5 linked regions of the Homo sapiens genome follow. The protein of the gene in region 1 interacts with the protein of each later gene in a pairwise test. Each region holds a gene or a part of one and is shown in the gene's direction. Other genes may lie near its edges.

Region 1 (3,522 bases):
CGAATGAATCGCCCTTTCCCTCTGGCACCCTGGCCAATTGGAATGCGTCGCCCCTTCCCTCTGGCACCCTGGCCACGTCCTGTGTTTCTGTCACAGCCTCAGTTCCTCGCGTCCGCTCACCCCTGCATTGCAGATGCCGCTGCCTGCGGGTGCATGGATCCCTGCCACCAAAGCCTCTGTCCATTCTCCACATGACTTGTCTTGAACACTGTCCTCTGGGGCTCACTGATACTTGCTGGTGCAATGATAAGAGAAAAACATCCTGACAACTATCTTTTCTACTCATTTCAGAAATATTTTATTAAGGACCAACCTGGGGATGCTGGGTTTTCCTAGTAGTCATTTGATTTTCCAGACAAGTGTGAAATTGGTGGGACATGAGTTGAAACTGGCTCTTAACACCCACCTCCCAGCAGACATCATTTCCCAAAATGCCATGGGCTCATTATATCCAAGATAAATCATAAGCCATAAGACCATGTCCAAAATCCAACAAATACATCTGTTCTCAGAAGCACTTTAATACAGATGTCTGTCTGACCTGAGCATATACCTGTGCAGGTGTTCCGAACGTCTAAGCGCTTTCCCTCCCCGTGCTGTTCTCTGGTACATGATTCTATCGTACCGTCTGGGCGAGTGAGCGGAGTCAGAGTGCATTTGTGTGGAGAGGCTGGAATGACTGAGAAGCCTCTCGGTGGCGCCTTTGAGGGAGGTGCTGTGCACAGCTTGTGGCTTCCTTCACTGGATCGCATCTCCAAGCTGCCCCTTTCTCTTGCCTTTGATTTTGCACATCATCCTGGGCTGTGCTCCCAGCTGTGTGTGGCCCTGGAGCTGACTGAGCCACACCGTGTGTGCATGTGAGAGAGGGCAAGGGGGGTGGGAGGGCCATACTAGGTGGGCGTAGGCGTGGGCAGGTGGCCCTGAGCAGGCAGCTTTGCCTGTTTGCCTCGGTTTCCTCCTGAGGGCCGGGCTGGCCTGCGGTGAGGATTGGAGGGATGCTCATGTGTGGTGCCCACACTCCACACTGGCCCCACGCGGGTGGCGAAGGACTCAGCCAGAGCCTGGCAGGATCCTGGGGTGTCTATTTCCAAGGAATGTTCTGGAAGAAACATACACACATACTTGTTTGCCAGATTTACCTGTGTGGTCTTCCAGATGAGAAGCAGCCTGTGTCACTCCATAAGGGAGAGTGCGTGCAGCATTGAGAGAGTGAGCCCTGCTCCCAGCTGCATCTGGCCCCTAACCTGCATCTGTGCTTCCCACACAGGTTTTAGCTGACGCTGTCTCACGCCTGGTCCTGGGTAAGTTTGGTGACCTGACCGACAACTTCTCCTCCCCTCACGCTCGCAGAAAAGTGCTGGCTGGAGTCGTCATGACAACAGGTAACCATCTTGGTGTTGTATGTAACCCTGCCTGTTTTCATGTCTGACAAATGTGAAATGTTCTCAATCGACAAAAACCACTGTGCCACACCGACGGGAGATGGTTACTTCTTTTCTTCTTCAAAATGTCTGCCATATGCAAGTTTACGAACTGCACTTACAAGCTTTTTTCCCAAAATGTTCATCTTTTTAACCTAAGTTTGTTTTATCTGGAGAAAGCACACTATATTAATATTTGATTCCTGTCATCTTCATCCTGTGAATGGCCTCAATCTGCTCTGGAAGATGGCAAGGGGCTTACTAATTCTTCCTTTATTTGAAAGTAGAGCCTATCTATTGTATCAGTTAATGTTAACGATGCCAGATAAGTTTCAGTGTGACTTCCTTTGAGGAGGGAGAGAGCTCTAGCAAGAGTAGAAAATCCGTGGGGAAAAAAAGCACAATTTAGAACGATAGAAGAAACCCTATTAAATTAGTCTAGAAGTTCCCAGTAGCAAAAGGAACCCCCGAGTCCTCTCCCCACATCCCGCGAGTGAGAACACGCAGCAGCATCTCTGTGGGTAGCTCCTGGGAAGGGAAGCCACATCCTTGGCCAGTGTCTGGCACCCCAGGGTGGAGCAAGACTCAGGGAGAGGACCCCTGTCATGTGGGGCCGTCTCTGTACCCAGCATCTGCTCAGCCCAGCCTGGACAGCCAGATGCAGGAAGCAGACCCTAGAGGTCAGGGAGGAAGCTGGGGACAGTTTCTCTGTCTACATCCACCAGCCCAGGAGAAACCCCCAGTTCTCGGTATGTGACTTTCTTGTTCTTTCCCCCTGAGGGGTCACCTCTATCAGACTCTGCAGCCCTCTTCACTGACCCACCTCTTGCTGCCCTAGGAAACCTGGCTGCTCTGCTCATGACCATTGTTTCCTTGCCGTGCCGTGTCCAGGGAGGAGGAAGCACCCGAACAGCAGCTTCTATTCTAATGTTTTGTACCTGTATCTTCTCCCCCTTTTACCTCTCTCCTTACTGCTATCTTTTACATTAATCAAAGGTGAACACCACAACGACTGAATAGAATAGTTCCCTAGGTAAGACTCCCTGCCTCTTCCAGCAGCATGGGTGAGTGAGCTGGTCATGTTCTTTCATCGTTTTGTTGTTGTTGTTGTTTTGTTTTTGTTGTTGTTGTTTTTAACGACCTTAGAAGAGGCCGATCACCTTCTGGGAACACCTTACATCTTAGTGTGTATTTCACCTGAGACCACTTGCTCAGAGCCATAGTTTACATCTGAAGCCAGGACGCTGGAGCACTTGGCACTCCAGACAGCTGGTTCAGGGGGCTCCCGCTGGTTGAGTGGACTTGGGCAGGTTACAAGGCCTCTGTGCCTCAGTTCCCTCATCTATACAGTGGAGACATTAGTAGCATGAGCCTCAGAGGACATCGTGGGAATGCAGTGAGGACAATTTACCTAACAGACCTGGTGCTTACCTGCCACATGGTGTGCACACCATTGGTTCAGCTGCAGTGGATGCGAGTTTCCCGGCAGGTGACTTCCAGGGTCCTGGCATCACACCTCTGGTCAGTGGTTTATCTCACAAAGTTGAGACGGAGTGATCTGTCTGTGGGAGTTCACCACTGCTTGTGATTTCACTCCGAGTGTGGTTAATGGTGACAGTTTACTAATGAAAACATCACAAGTTAATTCTGTTTTCCTTCTTATTCCTCTGGGTGCCGTTAACCCCTCCTTCCTAATCTCTTCAGTACTTTGATATTTGATGTCAAGATTAATTACCAGACCAGTTAGTCCACCTTTCCATAGTGTTGCCCAGCTGTGTTCTAGTTGTGGGCATTCAAGAAAAGATGCTATTGCATACCAGAGGAAATGACTTCCTTGAGTTTAGTGTCTGGACACTAAGCAATGACGATGGTTGGCTTTCCAGAAATGTCACAAAGTGAGTCCTCAATAGGAGGTTGTTTGCGTGTATACATTTGCCCACTTAAAAAATAGGTGGTAAGAATATGCATGAAGATGAGCTTGAAAAGTCTGTTGGCCCCTGAAAAGTTAAGTCACTGAGAATAAGAGTCAGACTTCAGGAGCACAGTTAGGCAAACATTACTGTGAATTACAGAAAATAGTGTCTCTTTTTTTTTTTTTCAG
Region 2 (3,522 bases), on another chromosome or scaffold:
CAAATTCCTGGGCTCAGGCCACCTACCTCAGCCTCCCAAAGTGCTGGTATTACAGATGGGAGCCACGATGCCTGGCCAGTTATTATTTTTATGATCCTCCATGCTTGTTAAAAATGAAAGATTGACTTCTTAGCTGTTTGGGGGCAAACCTCTCCTTCTGTGGCCATGTGACCCAGTGTCAATTCCTAGGGCTGCTGTAACAAAATACCATGAGCTGGATGGTTTAGAACAACAGAAATATATTGTTTTATGGTTCTGGAGGCCTGAAGCCCGAAATCAAGGTGTGAATAGGGCCATGCGCCCTCTGAAAGTACTAGAAATGGATCCATTCTAAGCATCTTTCCTCGCTTCTGGTGGCAGTCTTTGGCATTCCTTGAGTTTTGCTACATCACCCCAGTCTCTCCCTTCGCCTTCACATGATGTTCTCTCTGTGTGCATGTCTGTGTTCAAATTTACCCCTTTGGTAAGGACCCTAGTTGTGTTGGATTAGGGGGTCCACCCTACTCCAGTAAGACCTCATCTTAATTAATTGCATCTGCAGTGACCCCCATTTCCAAATAACATCATACTCCAAGGTATTGGGGGTCAGGACTTCAGCATATGAATTTTTGGGGGACACAGTTCAACGTTGACCCTAACACCCGGTGTCTCCTTCTGGTCTCAGTGGCACCACTGCAAGTGGAGGTGAGAACGAGCGTGAGGACCTGGAGCAGGAGTGGAAGCCCCCGGATGAGGAGTTGATCAAGAAACTGGTGGATCAGATCGAATTCTACTTTTCTGATGAAAACCTGGAGAAGGACGCCTTTTTGCTAAAACACGTGAGGAGGAACAAGCTGGGATATGTGAGCGTTAAGCTACTCACATCCTTCAAAAAGGTGAGGCTTGGTTCTCAGAAGCTGCTTCAAGGATTTCAAGTTTGTTTTGGGTTGTGGTTTTAAACATTTTTTTTAACTCCCTTGAAACCTGATGACGAACAATTTTTAAAATTAAGTCTGTGCCTGAAAAAGAGAAAAATGGCTAGGAGAAGGGATTTAGTATTGTTAGGAATATACTCCCACACTATTAAAAGGGTCCTGGGCATTGGGACAAATCTCAGCTGGCAGCAGTTATGAAACAATGTTACTTGTTCTTAGTAAAGTTCAGGCACTTTTGCCAGGCAAGTGGGTGGCCAGGAGGATGTGATACCAGGACAGACGGACTCGAAGGCCTTGAGAGATACCTGCCAGGCCTAAAATTATATGAAATTCAAGCTTTTCATTTGTCAAGTTGAATAAGCAAAGGGAGAGAATGAGCACCCAGAACTCTCAGAAATGAGCCTTCTCTAAGACACACATGCTCTGCCTGTGTGACGCCATCATCCTTATCTATACAATAGGGAGATGAGATTTGTAATTATTGCTGCCATCTGGGCAGCAGACTGCTTGTCCCTGCCATATATAGATCCAGTGTTTGGGCTGTGTACTGTCTACTTCTCAGAGAGTTGACAGACTAGTTGGAGTAAGAACTCTGTGTCTCCCTTAGGGGAAGTGCATTTACTAGAATGGAAAAGCACTACGCGGCCTGTTGCATAACGGGATGCGTAACAAGTGGGTCCCGGCCAAGTTGTCTGTGTACTTTGTCAGAGTGCACTGGAGGAGAGCTTTTCTCCTTGGACCTCTTCCCTGCCTCACCCACTGGTGTACTCTGCCTGGCCCTGTCGCTCTTTTTCCTTTATTCATTCATCAAATATGCTCATTGTCTCTGCTGAGTGCTGTGCTAGGCGCAGGATGTACAGAGTGAAGATCGTACTCCCCCTGTCCTTGACAAGCTCACAGTCCAATAAAGGAGAGAGATCTGAAAGATTACAATGTGACCACATATAGTAGGACAAAAGAGAGAACACAGTATTATTGGGAACTAGTTGATCAGAGCAACTAACCCTGCCTGGAGAACTGAGAAGTCTTCCCAGAGAAGGTGACATTGAAATAGGATTTTGGAGGATGAGTAGGAGTTTTCTAGGTACAGGGGAATGGAAGGGATATTTTAATGGTCAGAGAACAGTGAGCAAACCTTCATATGAAAAGTGTTTGTGGGGGATCCCAAAATGAAGCAGCCAGTGGAATCATCCAGCACGTCTCTTTATTCCTCCCCAGGGACCCCAAGAGTCAGCCTGTTTTGCTTTCCTCTTTAAGCTGCCACTTATGGTCCTATTTAGGAATGTTCTTCTCTGTTGAAACCTGGCTGCAGAGTACAGACAGACTCCCTAACACCTCCAAAATCAGAGCAAAGATCCTTTTCATTCTGAAGGATTTCCTATTAATCACAAAAGGGGAACATACATGACAAAGGTAAAAAGCACAGGGAAACCTTAGAGTTCTTCTAGCAATTGCACAAGGATGAACGCTCCCTGGTCCCTTTTCTCAGGTGCTACCTGGACCTTCCTTATGAATGGTCATGGACCCAGGCTTAGGATGCTCAGACTGTAACCGAGATTTCCCAGTGGACCTTGCTTCTGGCTCAGGAGGGATATTCAGTCCTAGCCAGAGCCTGCTTCTCTTGCAGTGAGATGTGGTCCCCCACAGACTTCTGTAGCCCTCTGAGTAAGGCAGTGCTGTGCTTTCCCAGGTGCTCCTAGCTCAAGCTTCAGGCTTAGGAAATTGTCTCTTTTTATCTCCCAAGTGCTCCCTCCCTAGCTGTTTTCGGAGAAGGCTTCACCATGTTTCACCCCACAGTGAGCCACTGCCTGGCTTTCCCACAGCCTCACACGCACCCGCAGTCATCAGCTTCACCCTTTCTGGATTCCTCATGGACTCTGTCCACCTGAAATCCGACCCTTTGCCTGGGCCTGCTTCTCTGTGCCCTTGGACCCGTGTTCTTCTAGTAGCCTAAGTCTGAGCCATTTCTCCCAGAGACCACAGGCTACAGTGGACAGTGCTCTCTCTCTAGGAGCCTGTGTATAGTAATGGGTCTGCCAAGGTTTCCCCATCTTGCCCAGTGAGTGAGCCTTTCCTTCTTGAGTTTCATGAAGTTCCTGTTTTATGCTCAGAGGCACCTGGAGTTCCCAGTTCTTTTGCAGAGCAGCTTGTTGGCCTGTTCTCAGAGGACTCAGGGGGATCTCGCCATTACGGGCTCAGGTTACCCACCCCACCCACCTTCACTATTTGTTTGGGATGACTCATTCCCCCTGGCATTCCCTTCACCGGAAGTGGGCCTCTAGAAAATTACTGTTTTACAGTATAAATATAGCTTCCATATACTGCAACATTGATACAATTTCCACCAACAAAGGAGGAGGGAGGGATTATTTCACCATTCTTAGTGAGGCCCAAGTTGGATTTAATTTCAAGTTGAAGTAGTCCATGTCATTCTCAGGAGATATTGCAGTGAAATGCGAAAGATCTTTTGGAAACTTCTCTGTATCAAATGCAGAAATGCAGAAATACTGCTTTAGAGAAGCATTTGAATGTTAAAATCTCCAAATCCTATCAAAATAATAGCATGTAATATTGGAAGTAATGATAGCACATGATTACTTAGTACTCA
Region 3 (2,439 bases), on another chromosome or scaffold:
AATGAGTGCAGTGGAACATGAAAAACTTGAGGAGATAACAGTTGAGGTGGGTTTCCATAGATGCATAATAGTTCAAGAGCAAGATTTGGTGGGGAGGCACTATTCAAGACAGGGACTAAGTTCAAAATCCAAGACGTATGCTGGGACACACCTCTGACAGGTTGGCATAAAGGAGGCTTAATCAAACTATTTTTCTTCTTCTGAAACAGAAGCAATAATTTTCATTTACATTTGACATATCCCGAGGTAATATTAACATTAGGGAAAGTTACTCTTTTCCATCTTTCCACATTCTTGCAGGACCATAAAATCTGAATTTTCCAGTATTTTTAATAAGAGGGAAGAAACCTCTCTTTTTCTTCTCTTTTTCATCTCCCAAGAGATCCTCCTCTCATGACTACAGTTGAATAGGTGGTTTCTATTGGAAGACATTCAGGAATTCAAGGTGCATGTCCATAAATGGACTTTTTTTGTTGTTGTTCAGAGCTGGACCTTGAATGATGCATCCTTCTCTCTGTTGTAACCATGAATAATGCACCCTTCATGCTATAGCCTTTAACGATTCACCCTTCTTATTGTAACCTTGAATGATTCACCCTTTATGGTGTAGCCTTGAGTGACGCACCCTTCATGTTGTAGCCTTCAATGATGCACACTCCATGTTATAGCCTTGAATGATATACCCTTTATGCTGCAGCCTTTCTCTTATGGGGAAAAGCCTGCAGATATCCTGCTGCTTAACTGACAAGTGTGGTGAGAAATAAGTAGAAATCTAAAGAGGGGAAGACCATTTTGGACACTTATCTGCAAGGCAGATCCAACACACTTTTCCAGTAGTCAAGCTACTTCTAATTTTGTTCAGTATCAAAATGAGAAACAGGCCTGATTCTCCAGCACTCTTGTCAACACAACTTCCCCCCATATTTATATATATACACACACATATATATCTTTATATATATACACACATATATATCTTTATATATATATATTTATATATATATCTTTTTGCATATATACATATATATGTATCTTTATTTCCTTTGAAATAAAGATAAATATAGCTGATTTCTTTGGCTTCGACACTTACTATTTGCATGACTAAGGGAAGCTAGTTAACCTTTCTGTGACTCATTTCCTTGTCCATAAAATGGGAATATTAATTGTACATGTCTTATGGATTGGTGTGTGAATTCAGTTAGCGAGTGTAGAATATAACTTATAGATCAAAGTAGAGTAAATGGAAAGGGCTCAACTATGGTGTTGCTACTGCCATTGTTATTACAGGCACACAGTTCGAGCTATAATCATTTCAAGGGAAATTCTTATGTGTCAGTTCTGGATCGAGGTCTGAGATTCTGCATTTCAAACAAACTTCCAGGAATGCTGCTGCTTCTTGGTCCACACTTGGAGAAATAAGTCAGCAGAGAGTCCTCTCGTTTCCTATTGTACCATGTCTGTCTTTTGTCTCCTGCTTATTGGCCTCTGTAAGGAACTCACAGCTGCTATAATAAAGTACCAAAAACTGGGTGGCTTAAAACAACAGAAACTTACTTTCTCACAATTCTGGAGGCTAAAAATTCAAAATCAAGGTGTCAGCAGGGTCAGATTCCTTCCAAAGCCTTTAGGAGAGGACCTTTCCTTGCTCCTCCTAGGTTTCTGGTTAAATCTAGGTGTTCTTTGCCTTATGGCAGCGTGACTCTAATTTATGCCTCCATCTTCACCCTCACATGGCCTTCTCTCTCATGTGTTTGTGTCTTTTCTCTTCTTCTTCTATGAACATGAGTTATATTGGATTAAGGCTCACCCTAATTTAGTATGAACCCATCTTAACTTGATTATATCTGCAAAGACTCTATTTCCAAATGAAGTCAGACTCACAGGTATTGGGGGTTTGATATTGAACATATCTTCTGGGAGGAGACACAACTTAATCATTAATATCCACTTTCTTTTTTCCTTATTAAATGTTTAATTTTTTTGTTTTCATTAAAACTGTTGTTCGATTATGGGTGCTTCACATAAAAGGTTGGAAACTTAAAAATTTGTCTCTGACCCCTCCTGGTTGGAAAGGCCTCTGTTGTACATTTATGCTAGCCTAGGCCATACCACTTTCTGTCTTCAGTACAGCCATCTTAGTTTATTCAAGTGACACAGATTTTCCAGAACACAGTATTCATGATCTTTTAAAGCATTTTTCTTCAAAGACTTTGATCTGGCAATAAATGTTACTATGTAATTCTCATGACATAAATTAGGCATAACTTGGATCTCCTCTTCTTCTGCTCATTCATTTGTCTGAATCATCACTATTATCTTTTTTATATTCCTTTACCGTTCTCCATAATGCTTTTCCAAGAAACTGGTTTATTCCACAATTTTATTGCAGAGGCAGCTGCAGGATATCATAATCTTATCTTTATACGAAGGAAGAATTGC
Region 4 (3,522 bases), on another chromosome or scaffold:
ATCCAGTTTGTTTACTCCAGTTATTAAGATCCAGTAAATCTTAGCAGACTTATTGCTATACAGTGTTTGTATTGCATCTCACTATATCACCACAGACCAGTGTCATCCCTAAGCCATTTATCATAAAGCAATCAAGAGGAAGCCACAATATGATGAGATCTGCTGCAAGCCACATGGTTTTTAGTTGCTTAACATCACCTTCCACAATTTTTCAGTCTTTTGATTCATGAGAGTCAGTCTTTCACACATGGCACGGTTACACCCCTAAGATGTGAATATATTTTACTCCCAAGTTTGACAAGACATTGCACCTGACACTTTACAGGTTTTATTTTCTCAAAAAGAAGCAGTGCTGCATCTCCCAGCACAGCAAATTGATTTTGAACTTGCATGCAGAGAGTAATATCTCTCAATGGATGCTTTAAAAAACTAGAGCACTTCATTATAGAAATACCCATTTCATTGTTAATACTTCATTTTGTTCAAGTGCTGGCCACACTGGTAAGAGAGTTAATTAATTTATATGCTTGAAATCATATGGATAAGAAGTAAAATTTGTGGCATGAGGCACATTGGCAGAGAGGTTAGCTGTAACACCTGGAAATAAACACTAATGTAATGTACCAAACTACTCCCCACAATCCAGTGGAACACTGTAAAGCCTTATTGTATTCAGTAAATTGCTATTAAAATCTTTCACCCTGCCTAGAAGATGAGCAGGTAATCTCTTCTCAAACACTTTTGAAGATCATCTCCTAAATACACTGAAAGAAGTATGACTTAAGATATTTGGAATAAAATAGATTATGACCCTAATTAGAGGAGGAATACTCATTCATTCATTCTATGAACCAATAATTTGGCAATTCTGAGATAAATACTAGACAACAGAATGGATATAAAGTGAATTTTTTGGCTAAGCAGAAGTGGTCAAAGTAAAGCCATTCCTTTTCTATCCAGTACTTCAATACTATGTTATATCACAAAAGGAGGGAAACAACTATCTTTCCTCTTCCCTTGTATCTCCTGCAAACTGAGCAAAGTTTTCAAAGACTTGGGGGGTGGGATGCAGGTAGAGGCAAAGATGGGGATAAAAGAACAAGTCAGAATTTTTCAATGTAGACAATGCATGCCACTATGAAACTAACTTCCTGAAGATAAACAGCTTGCCATTAAGCCTGTTAGAATTTTCTAGACTCTTAGAGAATTGTTATGACTTTTTTTTCACCCAGAATATACAGGTAGGCATTACAGCTATCTTTAATATGAGGCTTCAGATACTTATCTCCTATACCAAAATGTACTCGTGTTAAGACACACAGCCCTCCATGTCATGTTTTCCATGTTTTCATAGGATATGCATTTCCTAGATGGTGGAGGTGAAGGGAAATATGGGGAGCCTCAAGAAGGTAGAAGTAATCTAGATAGACCAGGACAGAAGGCAATTAGTTATAGCTAAGAGTTATTGATCAATGAAGAGTTCTAAAGCACCTCTTTTATAGTTTAGACTCCAAAAAAGGTCTAGTTTTAGAAACTGTACCCAATAATTAAATATTATTGAGTACTTGTTGATATGCTGATATTTGGGGACTTACCATTGCCATCTGTTGGGATGAGTTTTACAGAAATCATACAAATAGTTAACATTGACTGAATGCTGTGTGCCAGCACTGTTTCTAAGTACTTTATGTTTATTAAGTAATTTCTTAGAATACTTCCTTGAGGTAGTTTCTATTATTATCACCATCTTACAGATGAGAAAATTTAGGTAGAAAGTTGTTAAATAACAGGGCAAGGCTACACAGCTGGGAAATGGGAGACAGTAGAGTGTGAGGAGAAAGTATTGGGTTGGAGGAGTGTCCTCTTGTCATCTTTGTTTCTTTGATGATCAAACTTACCTTGTGAGTTACTTGACCAAAATTTAACAGTTTCACATAAAGAAGACTCAGCCCCGGGCTCATATGATGATAGAATCATGCTTTCTATTACAAAAATTGTAAAGAGCATTTTGTCACAGTTGCAATCCAAGACTGGGAAATTTTGTGTCTATGTATACACACACAAACATATGTGCATGCATATAATTTTTCAAGGACAAGCAAGCCAAAATTTTTACCGTATTAAACTCAAAAATACATGTGGTAGATTTGAGAATCTTACAAAAATATCTAAACTTTATAGGTTATTGAATATGATTGAAATAAAATAATGTATTAAAAGGTTTGTTCAGTGGTGGTTATTGCTAGAATTATCTTATTATCTTCTGTTATCTATTAGTTTAAATTATGCTTGCACAATGCCTGGCACATGGCATACCCTCAGTAAATACTAGATTCCTCTCTTACAGAAGAAGCCATGTTGGTGCTATAAGAATCAGTGATGAAGATTAACATATTTCTTGAAAAACAAAATGCTGTCCGGTTTAGAATACAGCAGTAGAGCAGCTTGTGAAAATGACTTTGTACTGAGGGAATTTTCATTTGCAGTAATTTGAAAACAAATAAAAGAAAAACAATACTTTGTGAGAAAATGTCCCATTTTTAAAGACACAATGAAACTGTTGAAAACTGGGGAGCAGTCAGGAGGCCTCCAGTAATGAGACAGGAGAGAGCATTTCAGCATTGTTTTCATTTTGCAGAATCATCTATCACAGAAAAGTAGTTTAAATTGTCTGTCTTGTTTTCAATTTTTCCAAAATATATTCAGACAAAATAGCTTGAATTGACTATCTTGTTTTTCGATTTTGTTTCAGATTTATTTCTGATTATAGCTTTTTTTTGGATTTAGATGTTTTCTCTTTGGAGGAATGAATAGCATTATGTTTAATCTTCTCTTGCCTATCCAAAATGAATGCAGAAAAGTTCCAGGTGATCAATTATTTTTCTCATGGAGCCCTTCTCATTTTCTTTCAGGTTGTTCTGAGCCTCTGGGTATGAAATCAGGACATATACAAGACTATCAGATCACTGCCTCCAGCATCTTCAGAACGCTCAACATGGACATGTTCACTTGGGAACCAAGGAAAGCTCGGCTGGACAAGCAAGGCAAAGTGAATGCCTGGACCTCTGGCCACAATGACCAGTCACAATGGTTACAGGTAAAGTTTTCCAAAACTGTTTCACTACCCACTGTTCCTCTTTCTTAGAAGATTTCCTGTTGATTAGGTGAGTGTCAGAGTCGTTACCTTCACGCTAATTTAAATGTGCCTTCATCTTCGGTTTAACTAAATTGGTAAAACACAAATTCCTTATGAAACCATGTCTGTGGGCTATTTTTACGCTGGTGTTGGTTTATAGATGCTAGTGTAAGCTTGATGCAGGAGACTGTACCAGATCACACTATGTGTATGTCAATTGATTGATTAGGAGAGCATTTGCATCTTAACTCTCATCCATTCTAATACTTTGTATTAATATTGGCTTTGAAAGCATGACAGCAAGAATCCAAAGGGCATTGAAATCATGCCACTGACCTGCAAACTGTTCACGTAGAATCATGACTCATGACATATTAGCTCCTTAC
Region 5 (3,522 bases), on another chromosome or scaffold:
TATTATTTGAGTGCATATGGGGGAAAAAAATTGTCTGCTGGGTGTGGTGACTCACATCTGTAATCCCAGCACTTTGGGAAGCTGCGGCAGGAGGATTGCTTGAGCCCAGGAGTTTGAGAGCAGCCTGCGCAACAAACCAAGATGCCATCTCTATAAAAAATTTAAAAATTAGACTGGCATGGTGGTGCATGCCTATAGTCCTAACTACTTGGGAGGGTGAGGCCCAGGAGTTCGAGGCTGCAATGAGCTATGATTGCACCACTGCACTCCAGCCTGAGTGACAGAGCAAAACCCTGTCTCTATTTTTATTTTGTTATTTTTATTTTTATTTATTTATTTTTTTTGAGACAGAGTCTCGCTCTCACTCAGGCTGGAGTGCAGTGGCGCGATCTTGGCTCACTGCAAGCTCCGCCTCTCGGGTTCATGCCATTCTCCTGCCTCAGCCTCCCAAGTAGCTAGGATTACAGGCGCCGGCCACCACACCTGACTAATTTTTTTTTTTGTATTTTTAGTAGAGACGGGGTTTCACCATGTTAGCCAGGATGGTCTCGATCTCCTGACTTCGTGATCCGCCTGCCTCGGCCTCCCAAAGTGCTGGGATTACAGGTGTGAGCCACTGCGCCCGGCCTCCCTGTCTGTATTTTTATTTATTTATTTATTTATTTTCTAAACTTGAGTCTTGCTCTGTCGCCCAGGCTGGAGTGCAGTGCCGCGATCTCGGCTCACTGCAACCTCCACCTCCTGGTTCAAGCAATTCTCCTGCCTCAGCTTCCCGAGTAGCTGGGACTACAGGCGTGTGCCACCACACCCACTTAATTTTTTTTGTATTTTTAGTAGAGACGGGATTTCACCATATTGGTCAGGCTGGTCTCGAACTCCTGATCTCATGATCCGCCCACCTCGGCCTCCCAAAGTGCTGGGATTACAAGCCTGAGCCACCGCGCCCGACCTAAAGCTCCCTTCTAAACCAGTGCTGAGATATATTATATATAAAATATTCTATGATATTATGGCTCCATAAGATCTCATTGTGTGTTGCATACTCTTAAATATTAATACTATGGAATCCTACTTTCTATTCCAGTTACATTTATTTGAATTATCTGAATAATTCTGGCTCTTGTTCATAGGCATCACCATTAAGTTAAACAATGCAAAGAGGCCTACAAAAAGTTACCAACTTATGAGTGGCAGATCTCTTTGGGTGGTTTTGGATTAAAATCTGATGAGCAGAATATATCTGGCTAGAATACTGTTCTGAAAAAGAACAGAGCCCATCTCATCACTGATCTCTTTAGTGGACCCCTTGAAAGTTTTGAAGTCTTTCAAAGGAAGTTAAGTTCTAAGTCAGTTACCATACGATACTGAGATGTGTATATTTGTGCATTTACTCCATAGGTGAACTCAAGGTTAGTCATAAGCATTTTGAAGAAGCTTTCAAGAAAGTAAGATCATCTATATCAAAAAAGGTAAGCAATGCCATTAAATGCATAGAGAAAGGAAACTAGAATTTTAGACCAGTAGATATGACCTCATGAATTAAACTCTTTTTTTTTTTTTTTGAGACGGAGTCTTGCTCTGTCGTCCATGCTGGAGTGCAGTGGTGCGATCTCTGCTCACTGCAAGCTCTGCCTCCCGGGTTCACACCATTCTCCTGCCTCAGCCTCCCAAGTAGCTGGGACTACAGGTGCCCGCCACCATCCCCGGCTAATTTTTTGCATTTTTAGTAGAGACGGGGTTTCACCATGTTAGCCAGGATGGTCTCGATCTCCTGACCTCGTGATCCGCCCGTCTCTGCCTCCCAAAGTGCTGGGATTACAGGCGTGAGCCACCGCGCCCGGCTGAATTAAACTCTTTTACAGATTGTTTTGTATACTACTTCTACTTCCTAAAAAGAAATTACATGGTTCATTTTGATCTGAAAACAAGCAAAATAATTGCCTTTGTGAGAATGTTCTTGAGAGATTTTAATTTTATATGTTTCTTAGGGACTAGAACACAGTTTTCCTAACTAGATTCTCTAACAACTTTATTCAGAAAGAGAATGACCTCTTCTGCCTCCACAATCTCAGATTTTTTTTTTATTTTTTTGAGACAGAGTCTCGCTCTGTCACCCAGTCTGGAGTGTAGTGGCATGATCTTGGCTCACTGCAACCTCTGCCTCCTGGGTTCAAGCGATTCTTCTGTCTCAGCCTCCTGAGTAGCTGGGACTATAGGTGCGCACCACCATGCCTGGCTAATTTTTTGTATTTTTAGTAGAGACAGGGTTTCACCATATTGGTGAGGCTGGTCTCAAACTCTTGACCTCGTGATCCACCCGCCTTGGCCTCCCAAAGTGCTGGGATTACAGGCGTGAGCCACTGCGCCCAGCCCACAATCTCAGAATTTTAATCATCTGATTCAAGTATTATTTGACCTACTCTACGCTTTTTGATAAATGGCTTTGTATTTCTTGGAGCTAGACTGTACCCAAACTAAGCCATAGGGACTTACCCATACATTTCAGGGAAATAAAAACATCTTCACCATAGGTGGGAGAAGGGTTAAAAAAAAATCACTCTGGAGCTGGGCACAGGGGCTTATGCCTGTTATCTCAGCTACTCAGGAGGCAGAGGTGGGAGAATGGCTTGAGCCCAGGAGTTCAAGATCAGCCTGGGCAACATGGTGAGACCCTGTCTCTACAAAAAAATTAAAACTTAGCCAGGCATGGTGTCATGCACCTGTAGTCCCAGCTACTTAGGAGACCGAGGCAGAAGGATTACTTGAGCCCAGGAGGTTGAGGCTACACTGAGCCATGATCACACCATTGTACTCCAGCCTCGGTTACAGAACGAAACCTTGTCTCAAAAACAAACAAATAAACACAGAAGAAAAAACACACTTCAAGTATTTCTTTGGGATGAATACACAGGAGTGGAATTGCCACCCAACATTTAAAATGTTAATTTGCCAGACGCGGTGGCTCACTTCTGTAATCCCAGCACTTTGGGAGGCTGAGGCGGGCAGATCACGAAGTCAGGAGTTCAAGACCAGCCTGGCCAATATAGTGAAATCTCATCTCTACTAAAAATACAAAAATTAGCTGGGCGCGCACCTGTAGTCCCAGCTACTGCGCACCTGTAGTCCCAGCTACTCAGGAGGCTGAAGCAGAAGAATCGCTTGAACCTGGGAGGCAGAGGTTGCAGTGAGCCAAGATTGCACCACTGCACTCCAGCCTGGGCGACAGATTGAGACTCCGTCTCAAAAAAAAAAATTTTTTTTTAATTTGACCACAGTGAGATTCTACTACACACCTACCACAATGACTAAAATTTAAAATATTGGCAACACTAAATGGTGGCAAGGATATGAAACAGCTGGAACTCTTTTTATTTATTTATTTATTTATTTATTTTTTTGAGACAGAGTTTCACTCTTGTTGCCCAGGCTGGAATGCAATGGCACAATCGCAGCTCACCACAACCTCTGCCTCCTGAGTTCAAGCTATTCTCCTGCTTCAGCCTCCCGAGTAGCTGGGATTAC

Evidence for each region.
Region 2: the proteins of ADARB1 (region 1) and LARP6 interact in a two-hybrid assay, tested with the Homo sapiens proteins (one large-scale study listed by BioGRID and IntAct).
Region 3: the proteins of ADARB1 (region 1) and DCN interact in a two-hybrid assay, tested with the Homo sapiens proteins (one large-scale study listed by BioGRID and IntAct).
Region 4: the proteins of ADARB1 (region 1) and EDIL3 interact in a two-hybrid assay, tested with the Homo sapiens proteins (one large-scale study listed by BioGRID and IntAct).
Region 5: the proteins of ADARB1 (region 1) and NVL interact in a two-hybrid assay, tested with the Homo sapiens proteins (one large-scale study listed by BioGRID).

Annotation. Positions count from the first base shown.
Region 1 is NC_000021.9:45,179,063-45,182,584, forward strand, and holds part of ADARB1 (double-stranded RNA-specific editase 1), read left to right. Parts: intron 1-1,267; coding exon 1,268-1,382; intron 1,383-3,522. UniProt on the Homo sapiens protein: Catalyzes the hydrolytic deamination of adenosine to inosine in double-stranded RNA (dsRNA) referred to as A-to-I RNA editing.
Region 2 is NC_000015.10:70,833,648-70,837,169, reverse strand, and holds part of LARP6 (la-related protein 6), read left to right. Parts: intron 1-664; coding exon 665-875; intron 876-3,522. UniProt on the Homo sapiens protein: Regulates the coordinated translation of type I collagen alpha-1 and alpha-2 mRNAs, CO1A1 and CO1A2. Stabilizes mRNAs through high-affinity binding of a stem-loop structure in their 5' UTR.
Region 3 is NC_000012.12:91,142,381-91,144,819, reverse strand, and holds part of DCN (decorin isoform a preproprotein), read left to right. Parts: 3' UTR 1-2,439. UniProt on the Homo sapiens protein: May affect the rate of fibrils formation.
Region 4 is NC_000005.10:84,059,875-84,063,396, reverse strand, and holds part of EDIL3 (EGF-like repeat and discoidin I-like domain-containing protein 3 isoform 1 precursor), read left to right. Parts: intron 1-2,912; coding exon 2,913-3,097; intron 3,098-3,522. UniProt on the Homo sapiens protein: Promotes adhesion of endothelial cells through interaction with the alpha-v/beta-3 integrin receptor. Inhibits formation of vascular-like structures. May be involved in regulation of vascular morphogenesis of remodeling in embryonic development.
Region 5 is NC_000001.11:224,229,173-224,232,694, reverse strand, and holds part of NVL (nuclear valosin-containing protein-like), read left to right. Parts: exon of another isoform or gene 1-47; intron 48-1,398; coding exon 1,399-1,469; intron 1,470-3,522. UniProt on the Homo sapiens protein: Participates in the assembly of the telomerase holoenzyme and effecting of telomerase activity via its interaction with TERT. Involved in both early and late stages of the pre-rRNA processing pathways.